Linked DNA regions of Homo sapiens: region 1 is linked to region 2. Evidence: fine-mapped expression QTL. Tissue or cell type: monocytes. Region 2 holds a variant in brackets; the other region holds the start of a gene. All regions are shown on one strand. Distances are between the middles of the regions.

Region 1 (5,429 bases), 85 kb before region 2:
GAAATGGGCAAATGCTACAAATCAAGGCATTTCCCTTACCAGAGAGCAGGTGTGAAGCATTTATCAGGACACCACTGGTGGGTGGGGGTGTATTGGAGAGTGGTGGTACATAGGAGAGAGTTGGCTGAAGAAGCCAGCCAGAAAGAGAGCTCCCATAGTGGCAAAGAGCTTTCGATTTGAACTCAAGGCTCTGTTATTTACTGAATGACCTTGGGCCACTTACTTAACCTCTCCCCAGTCACTTTCTTTTTCTTTTTTTTTTTTTGAGACGGAGTCTCGCTCTTTCACCAGGCTGGAGTGCAGTGGTGTGATCTCTGCTCACTGCAACCTCTGCCTCCCCGGTTCAAGCGATTCTCCTGACTCAGCCTCCGGAGTAGCTGGCATTACAGGTGTGTGCCACCAAGCTTGGCTATTTTTTTTTTTTTTGTATTTTTAGTAGAGACAGGGTTTCACCATGTTGGTTAGGCTGGTCTCGAACTCATGACCTCAAATGATCCACCTGCCTCGGCCTCCCAAAGTGCTGGGATTACAGGCGTGAGCCACCATGCCCGGCCCAATTTCTTATCTATATTGCAGGATTGATTAGTATCAGGTTTAAATTTATATGTACACATATATGGTATTTAAAATCATGACCTTTCCATTCCACCTAATAAATGTTATCTATTATCGTTTTGGGAAATAAAAGCATGTGTTAGAAAAATCAGCTTTTTTTTTTTTTTTGAGACAGGGTTTCTCTCCGTTGCCCAGGCTGGAGTGCCGTGGTGCAGTCTCAGCTCATTGCAACCTCCACCTCCCAGGTTCAAGCAATTCTTCTGCCTCAGCCTCCCAAGTAGCTGGGATTACAGGTGCCTGACACCACACCTGGCTTTTTTTTTTTTTTTGTATTTTTGGTAGAGATGAGGTTTCACCATATTGGCCAGGCTGGTCTCAAACTCCTGACCTCGAGTGATCCATCAGCCTCGACCTCCCAAAGTACCGGGATTACAGGCATGAGCCATCACACCCGACTTTTTTTTTTTTTTCTTTTTGAGACAGGATCTTGTTTTGTCATTCAGCCTGCAATGCAGTGGCGTGATTATAGCTCACTGCAGCTTCAACCTCCTGGGCTCAGGTGATCCTCCACCTCAGCCTCTGAAGTAGCTGGGACTACAGGGGTACACCAACACGCCCAGCTAAATTTTTAATTTTTATTTTAAAGATGGGAGTCTCACTATGTCGACCAGGCTGGTCTTGAACCCCCGGCCCCAGGTGATGCTCTGTCCTAAGCCTTCCAAAATGTTGGGATCACAGGCGTGAGGCACCCCAATGGGCCAGAAAATGAGCATGGTAATCCCCAGCTAACACCTTAAGAATGCCTCCTGGCCGGTCGCGGTGGCTCACGCCTGTAATCCCAGCACTTTGGGAGGCCGAGGCGGGCAGATCACGAGGTCAGGATATCGAGACCATCCTGGCTAACACGGTGAAAACCCGTCTCTACTAAAAAAAATACAAAAAAAATTAGCCGGGCGTGGTGGTGGGCGCCTGTAGTCCCAGCTACTCGGGAGGCTGAGGCAGGAGAATGACGTGAACCCAGGAGGCGGAGCTTGCAGTGAGCCGAGATAGCGCCACTGCACTCCAGCCTGGGCGACAGAGCGAGACGCCGTCTCAAAAAAAAAAAAAAAAAAAAAAAAAAAAAAAATACTGCCTCCTATTGGAGGTGGGTGCATTAACCGAGCTCTCGAAGCCCTGTCTGCTCTGGGCTTACAATCTACATGGAGAACCAAATGCGCTCCAGGAAGTTACACAGCACTAAAAATACACTTGTATTCATATTAGACTTTACAGGTCACAGAAATCTTTCATATGAGTTATCTCCTGTGATCCTCACAACAGCCACCTGTTTATAGAGAGCATCAGAAAGGATGAGTGATGTTGAGGGTCACGCAGAGAAGCAATGGCCGAATTACTAGCCTCCGAAGGACTGTCACCAGATTGGTCACCATGGGGTATCAAGTAGTGCTGCTGCATAAAGGCAACACTGAGAGATGAAGCCCCTTTCTCCAGCATCTGTGTGGGTGGAGGGCCAGGGATCCCGTCTGTTACGCACATTCAACAAACTCAAGTTTTGCCATCCACTGGGCGTCCTGCAGTACAGCGGTGTGGGCTCATCTCCAGGACCTCTCTCTACGGGGTACGCCCCTCATCTTGCGGTGATCAGTGTTCCTTCCAGACCTCTCAGTCCGGACTGAGTTGGGCACCGCGTCAGCGTCTCCCGGCCAGGCTCGCCGCCGATGACTCCGCTCGGCCTAGGGAGGCGGCCGAGAGCCCGTAGGGCTCCTCCTTCCCTCCAGTCTCTATGGCGGAAGTGAGTTGTACGGGCCGAAACACCACAGCGTTCTCGGTGGTGGGCTGAATGGACTCGTCCACATGAGGGGGATCTTCATCACCATCAACTCTTAAAATCCGAGACATAACCACGAAAGGAGCAGCCCCCAGATCAGAGAGCAACGCATGACTATCTGCGTGTGCTTCTGTGACTACGCGGATGTTGTGGGCGGCTACATGCGTGCGGGGGCCCGGCGAGCTGGGCAGGTGCCCCCTCCGGGGCCGTGGGATCTGGTGAGCTTCCCGGCGCGCGGGGGGCGGTGCGGCTTCCGGTCCCGGCTCAGCCTCCGACCCAGGTGGTCTGGAGCCTGCCGGGAGAGTGGTGGCATCTGAGAGGCTGGTCGTGGACTGTGGTTGGGGGAGGTGGGAGCTGTTTTAACCGTGTGCCCCCTCTCCTGTGCCGGCGTGGGCATCCCCCGGGGCAGTGGAACGCGGGCGCTCCTCCAGCTTCCGAGTCCAGCCAGCCTGGGCGCGGGGCGCCGCCCCCGAGACACCCGAGGAGTCCGTTCCTCCCTGGTTACGTGGACTGTGGAGGTTCGCGCGTAGTGGCGGCGGGGGATACGGGACCCGGGCGGGAATTCCTTCCTGCGTCCGTCCCGAGTCTCTTGATATGGAGCCAAGTAAGTTTTCTGGTTTTGCTTTTAGCTGGTCTCTTGTGGCTCAGCGCCGTGCGGAGGTTGAAGCGTACCTGCGGAGGTCGCACCAGGGCGTGAGGAGGAGGAGGAAGGGCATGAGCCGAGCTTGAGGAATCCGTGCTCCAAACTCTACACTCAAGGTGGGAATGGGCGCACCCTGTGCTCCAGCCAGGCTTGAGAAGGCGGCTGTTAGCCTCTGCCACTCGGGGGGACAAGAGGGACGAGACTTTCCAGACCCTACTCTGGTGGGCCCTGCTTGCTCACTGCTCACTGTGTGGGGCAGGGGACAACAAGGTTTTCACAGACCAAATGTGGCAGCTGTGGGAAGGAGAATGGGGTTGGTCAGGACTGACTTCTTGGAGGAGTGGATCCTAAAATAGCACGTAGAATGAGGGAGGAGCCCAGGCTTGGGGCACAAGTGAGATGTGTGGCTTGTGTGAACGATTGCGGGGGACACAAGAGGGAGAAGTCGTGGAAGAAAGGGAGCCGGACCAGAGCCGGGAGTCTCTAGATGGGAAGAAAACTGCTGGATGGAGTAAAACTGGAGGGCAAAACGAGCAAGAGAGCCCTTCTCCTTCTTGATCCAAGCATGTAGGAGAAACTAATCCAGCAACCCCTGGAAGAACCTGGAATTCCTGGGTTGGGCTCAATTGAGCAGTTGTTTTGTAGAAGGTACTAGGAATTACCATTATAGTGATGAATGGAATATAGTCTCTGCCCTATAAGCAGAATATAGGAATTGTTTGCCTAGTGGTAGAGACAAAAACAAAACGTGATGGTGCTTGATAGTACAGGTAGACGCGAGCTGATCGCCAGCTGAGAGGCAGAGCTGGCCTGATCTCTGTGCGGTCCACAGACCGTTGCCCTGTATCCTGTGCTGAGCAACAGTTTAAAAGGGGCAGACACAAACTGAAATATACTTTTTATATTCACCATCTGTCAACCAGATGAGTGAAATATACTTAGAGGAGAGCTGCTAGGATTCCATGCAGATAAGATGTGATGTGGAACAGACATGTTTTTGAGGACTGGGGACCTTCAGCCTGTAGAAGGGGTGAGGGGGTGGTGGAATAGCTGCCCCTAAATAAAAACTCACTTGTGGAAAAGAGGTGAGACTTATTTTGTGTGGCTTTGGGTACCAAAACTAAAACTAAAAGTGGTTTGAAGCACTAAGAGACAGATTCTTCAGCAGAAAGAATAACTGGACTGGGTGCGGTAATCCCAGCACTTTGGGAGGCCGAGGCGGGTGGATCTCTTGAGCTCAGGAGTTCGAGACCAGCCTGGGTAACATGGCAAAACCCTTTCTTTACCAAAAATACAAAAAATTAGCCAGGTGTGGTGGTGTTCGCCTGTGTTCCCAGCTGCTTGGGAGGCTGGGATGGGAGCCTGGGAGGCAGAAGTTGCAGTGAGTAGAGATTGTGTCACTGTATTGCAGCCTGGGTGATGGAGTGAGACCCCATTTCATAAATAAAATAAATAAATAAATCAGAATAACTGAATAGAACTTCCTGAACATTGACTGGTTGTTGTGAGAGCTAGTGAATTCCCAGTCAGGGGAGGTTTGCAAGCTGAATACTCTGAGTTATAAGGAACTTGAAGCTCCCTCTCCCTCTGGGCATGTATTTAGTTATTATGTTCTAGTTCTCAAGTCTCTTGTTCTCTCCTTCCTACTCTCTCTACCACTGCTGTGTTATAGCCTTGCATCATCTCTTGGCAGTAACAATGTAATAATGAATTATAGCAGCTAATACTTAGTGGATATTTACCATTTGTCAGGTACTTATTTAAGTGTTTTATACATGCTAGCTCATTCAGCCCTCAACCCTTTCAAGGTAGCCATTATTATCTCTTTTGTATATGTGGCAGATAGGTGTTAAGCAGCTTGCCCAAGATCATGAGCATGGAGCAAGTGGCAGAGCTGGGGTTCCATTCCAGGTTGTCTGGCTTTCAAGTCATCGTTTTCAACCACTATTCTACTGTATTTTACATGTGTTACCTTAATTCTCACTACTATCCCCATTTACAGATAAGAAGTTCAGAGAGGTTGAGTGATTCGCTTAAGGTCATAGAGCAAGATGTAGATGAGGTGGGATTCAAACCCAGGACTGTAGGACATGAAAAACCGCCCACACCTGATTATGCTGCTTCTGTAACTACATCTACTGTAGTGGTCTTTAACTGACTTCCGTGCCCAGCCTTTGTGCCTTAAATCCACAAGTTTTTACCCTGGAGTCTGTGGATGTGGGTGTCTCTAGAAATAGGTGAGATTTGGTATATGTGTGTGTGTGAGAGTCATGTTTTTAAAGCCCAGTCTTCATGGCTTCATTCACTTCTCAGAGCAGTTTGTGACCCCAATACGGTTTAGAGCCATTCTTTGCCCTTTAGCCAAAGGTACTTGTCTTTTTTTTTTTAAATTTATTTTATTAC
Region 2 (5,429 bases):
CCAGTTACTTGGGGGGCTCAGACACGAGGATCCTTTGAGCCCAGGAGTTTCACTCCAGCTTGTGCATACTGAGACCCCGTCTCCGAAAAAACGCAAAATCCCAATAAAACAAAACAAAAAAGAGAGTGATGATCCTACTTCGAAGCACTGTGGTGTTGATCAGTAGGTAAGGCTTATGACGTCAGGCACCTCCCTTATCAGACTGGCAGCCCCCCAGGGCAAGGCTCCTCAGGAACGGGCCTCTTGGGGCCCCAGCTTCATCCCATGGCTGCCCATGGCTCCCAGGCTAGGTGAGTGGGTGGAAGGTGGGAGACTGAGAAGGAAACACAAACTTTGGCCTGTTCTGGTACTGCCTGGCCTGGCCTCCCCTGCCTGGTGTCTCTGAGGGGAAGCCGGGGCCATGGGCAGCCTGGAAGGGGCTGGAGAGTGGCTCACCCCTCAGCCTCTGCTGACCCTGCCCTTGACCCGCAGGGCCAGGACAGAGAGGGGAGTGGGAGGCACATTCCTGGCATTTGGAGGGAGAGACTGAGGCCATGAAGGGCAGGCTCTGGCAGCATAGGAGGGTGGTGGGGGGAGGGGAGTGCAAACTTCATTTCTGTCTGACAGATGGGTAAACTGAGGCTCAAGTTCCTCCAGCAAGTTAGCGGCAGAAGCAGGACGAGAACCAGGGCCCTTGACTCCCAGCATAGTGCTCTCTTCCCCTTTCCCTATCTCCACATTTTTTGGGTTGGTTTGAAACGGCAAAGAGAGGGTGTGTGTCTCAGAATATGTTCAGGGTCCCCTTCCCAAGCCCAGGTCTGGCTGTGGCCATACCAGTGACACTCTCCTGGCCATGGTCTGGGCTTCGAAGTTCCAGAAGAGACCTTGTCTGGGCAATGTAAATCCCACTAACCCTAAGGCTCAGCCCTGGGGGAAGGTCCCCCTCAGCCTGCTCCTTGACAGAGGGCATCAGCTGTTTCCACTGGTATATCCCCTCTTTCCCTTTCTTCTCCACCAGCGGGGCAGTGCTAGGACATAGGGCAACGCTCAGAGTTCGAGGGTCACCTGAGTCCTGACCGTCTCCAAAAACTGTGGGGAGGGGTCAGGAGGTCCAGCTCCTGGTTTAAAGTCCTGCTCTGTTGGTTGACAGGCTGTGCGGCTTAGAGCAAGGCCCTTCCTCTCTCTGGACCTCAGTTTCTCCATCTGTAAAATGAGGGGTAGGTGACATTCATGGTTTTAGTATGTTACCCCCTGGAGGATGCCTGTGCTACCCACTATATCCCCAAACCTGAGGTGTGAGGTGGCCCTGACCTATTTTGGAGGGAAATGGGAGGGGATGGGCCTACCTGGGCTGTACCAGCTACTTTTTGGCTGGTTTAGTTTTCAGAGGACTAAAGGAAGGGGATCATTGTCTGCTAAGTATGGCAGCAATTTCTGCTGTTCCTCCAGGCTCCAACGTGCCCCAACTTCCCCTCAGAGACATCAGGTAGGAGAGGCCAGGCCAGGCAGTACCAGAACAGGCACAAGTTTGTGTTTCTCTTCTGCTTGGGGTAAGGTCAGGTAAGGGGAAGGGACCCATATTAGCCTTTTGAGGCTTGATAGGTCGAGTGTTTGGTGTCTGAAAACTACACCTTCTTTTCTTTTTTGATAGGGTCTCACTCTGTCACCCAGGATGGAGTGCAGTGGCACGATCTCCACTCACTGCAACCTCTGCCTCCCAGGCTCAAGCCATCCTCCTACCTCAGCCTCCTGAGTAGCTGGGACTACAGGCACATGCCACCATGTCCGGCTAATTTTTGTATTTTTTGTATAGATGGCGTTTCACTATGTTGCGCAGGCTGGTCTTGAACTCCTGTGCTCAAAGCCATCCACCTGCCTTGGCCTCCCAAAGTGCTGGGATCACACACAGGCATGAGCTGCTCCCAGCTGAAAGCTACAATTTTTTTTTTTTTTTTATTGGAGATGGAATCTCACTTTGTCACCCAGGCTGGAGTGCAGCGGTGTGATCTTGGCTCACTGCAGCCCCCACTTCCTGGGTTCAAATGATTCTCCTGCTTCAGCCTCCCAAGTAACTGGGATTACAGGTGTGGGCCAACACACCTGGCTAATTTTTTGTATTTTTAGTAGAGATGGAGTTTCACCATGTTGGCCAGGCTGGTCTCGAACTCCTGACCTCAGGTGATCCACCTGCCTCGGCCTCCCAAGGTGCTAGGATTACAGGCATGAGCCACTGCACCCAGCCAGAAAGCTACACTTTCGAGGGTTGACCTTGAAACTACGTGGGGCCATGTGGCTATCCCTGATCCCCTGGAAGGTCTTCAGAGTTAGCTTATCAGCTCAAGTTATTCTCCACTCTGAGTACACGACAGGGAACTCCTCTCCCTCAGTGCTTAGGCACTGGGGTGGCCATGGGGGTTGGGGCAGCAGTGGCCTGTCAGGGCAGGGTTTTGCAAGGGGACTTAGCATCCTCGGGAGAGGAGGACACTGGCCATCTTCCTTTTTCCAGGAGGTCATGGGGAGAGTATGTGGTGGGACACCGTGGGCCTCCCTCCACCAGAAACATGGTCTTAGCAGCCACGGGCTTGTAGGGGGATGGAGCTGAGGAGAGGACTGTCAGGCAGGCTGGAGAGCCTCCAGGGGGACCCTAGTCTCCCCCAATCTCAGGGAGCTCCTTAAAGCAGCCACAATCCACTGCAAAAGGGCAAAGCCTATGGGGGGGCCTGGGGGAAGTAGGACTCCAAGGCCTCCATTTTGTACCCCTAAAGGCTGTAGCCAAGAGGAGGAGGAATGCAGGATTCCCCGCTAGGCCCTGTTCTGACAGGCTGGGGAGGAAGGGTGGGGCTCCCAAGTGAGCCCACATGCTCCTGATCTCAGGTCGTAGCTAGGCAGCTTTGTAAACAGCAGAAACACAGAGCAGCCTCTGTGTGTGTGTGTGTGTGTGTGTGTGTGTGTGCATGTGTATGTGTGTGCCTGTGCTGGGGGACTCACGCCCCAGAGGGGACCCTTCTCATTACTTTATAGTCACAGTTATATACAGGTCTGAGGCTGGGGTTCTGCCAGCTAATGCTTGCTGGCATTAGCTGTGTTGCAGGTCTGTGTTGCAGGTCTGCTCCATGTATTGTCTCCTTTAATCTTCCCAACCCTATAGGCAGGCATCCTTATTACCCAGTTTTACAGGTGGGGAAACTGAGGCTCTGAAAGTTGCAGATGCTCAGGGTCACAGAGCAACTGAGTGATAAAGCCAGGTCAGGGTTCAAATTGAGGTCTGTCTGACTTCAGTCCAGTTATACTCCTGGCACCTGTGGACGTGTGTGCAT[G/A]TGAGCACTGATCAAGGGCTATGTGTATGCACATGTGCGGATGTGTGCTTTGATGGTGGGCCTCAGTCTGCCTGCGCCTGTTGAGGACACCTGCATGTAGGCGTGGATGTCTCCGCCCAGGGATGGAGGTGTGCACACAGATGTCCATTTGCACTTATGTTTGCACAATGCACGTATGTTGGGTACACATGTATGTGTTGTATGTGTGCACATGTGAACATATGCATAAGAACATATGCTTGTGCACAGTGTGCCTGCATTTGTGAGTAGGTGTGTGCATAGGCTGTGCATATGTGTGTTCATATCTGCAGATAGCCATGTCCCCAGGTATATGTGGTCATCTCCAAAGGCTGACCTCACTCCAGTTCACTCAGCCTGTGTCCCCTTCTCAGGCTCCTGACTCACCACATGTGTGGAATCTATTTGCATGTCAGTCCCACTGAGTCAGTGTCACAGCAGGATGTGTGATGGCCTTGCTGGTGGTACAGGGACTTCGAAGGAGGGGCGCTTGGGGAGAGGTAGGATTGGCAGGGATGAGTGTTGAATAGGAAGGTGGCGGATGGGATGAAAGAGATTAAGGCCAGGTGTGGAGGCGGGCCTAGGTGTTTTTCAGCCCCCAGTCAGGGGTAGAGGCCTCAAGGAGGCTAATCCTGCCCCCTGTACTTACCTCTTTCTTATTTTTTATTTTTATTTTTAGATAGAGATGGGGTCTCACTATATTGCCCAGGCTTGTCTCGAACCCCTGAGCTCAAGCGATCCTCTCACCTCGCCCCAGGAACAGCTCTTTGCACTGTCCCAGACCCCAGGCCATAGGTATCTGGTTCCCCATTGGGCGTGGAGGTGCAGATGAGGCAGTGGTCAGCAGGGGGCGCTCAGAGCCTGCAGATGGTGGGGAGCCATGGAACAAGCAGGTGGGAATGGGAGTGGGGAGGGTAGGGCTGAACCACGGGCACAGACCCACCTGCGGGGAAAGGGTGGAGGAACATGAACTTTGCAACATGAGGGGCAGACTCCCAGAGGGCCAGATATACACATCCTCCCCAGAGGGACAGGCCCTCTCCAACAGACTCACAGACCCTCAGAAGGACAGACACAGGGACAATCCCTCACCCTCTGAGAACATTCCGGGCCCAATGAGCCGGAGGGAGGTGAGAGTGACCACACTGGCCTGCATGTCCCTCTGGAGGCAGGGGGTGTTGGCTCTTGGTGACAGTGAGGAGGGGAAGGAAGGCAAGGGCTCTAGAGTCAGGCACGCTCAAGGTCTGACTTCAGCGTTGCCTCTGGGTGACCTGAGCTCTCCTGAATGGGGCAATGTCTTCCAGGTGTCCAGCTCAGGCCTGGACACGCAACGTCACCCTGGAGGTTATGAGAGGTTGCCAGAGCCTCCGTCATTGGTATGTCTGCACATTTCTCCAAGCATCTACTAAGTGCCAGGTCCACTGCAAGGCGCTGGGGATATGGTAATGATCAAGTCACACTCAGTGGCTCCTGCCACTGCTAGGGAGCTAACATTCTAACGGGGGGAGTATCTTAGGATACTTGGGATACAAAATGATCACTATTCCCCCCATTTGATTATTTGAAGTGGAAATTATGGGACAAAAGGCAGAGACTGGCAGGGAAGGCCCTTTCCTCTTTTATTGCTTATCAAATGCAGGCTGAGAAAAGTCCAGATATTATGGTACTGCTGTGGTCCCCTGCCTCTTACTGCAGAGGTCAGATCCAAACCCTCCATCTCATTCAGTCAAAGCTGAGGTTCAACAGTGGCCCCTGAGGCCTAGTGTAGGCTGAACCCCCCGCCTCTCCCCTCATCCCTCCTCGCAAGTCCTCAAACATGATAGGCAGGTTCTGCCTCCGGGCCTTTGCCCTTGCTGTTCTGCCTCTGGGCCTCTGGCCTTGCTATTCTCTCTTCCTGGAATGGTCTTCCCCAGGCTTCTGCGTGGCTTGTTTCTTCATCTCTTGTTTTTTTTTTTTTTGAGATGGAGTCTCACTCTGTCACCCAGGGTGGAGTGCAGTGGTTCAATCTCAGCTCATTGTAACCTCTATCTCCTGGGTTCAAGTGATTCTCCTGCCTCAGCCTCCCCAGTAGCTGGGACTACAGGCACCTGCCACCACACTCAGCTAATTTTTTTG

Evidence for each region. PIP is the estimated chance that this variant, and not a neighbour inherited with it, causes the effect.
Region 1: it holds the start of ATG101, and the variant in region 2 is fine-mapped to the expression of ATG101 in monocytes (TOPMed, PIP above 0.99).

What each region holds. Positions count from the first base shown.
Region 1 is chr12:52,067,342-52,072,770 of GRCh38, forward strand. ATG101 (autophagy related 101) reads left to right here and starts at 2,637. Exons shown (of 4, transcript NM_021934.5): 1 at 2,637-2,901; 2 at 3,013-3,142. RefSeq lists enhancers at 2,103-2,392, 2,270-2,985.
Region 2 is chr12:52,152,793-52,158,221 of GRCh38, forward strand. No RefSeq gene overlaps it. Among named protein-coding and RNA genes, the nearest start is that of KRT80, 37 kb to the right of the region's middle. The variant G/A (reference allele first, on the strand shown) is at 3,297.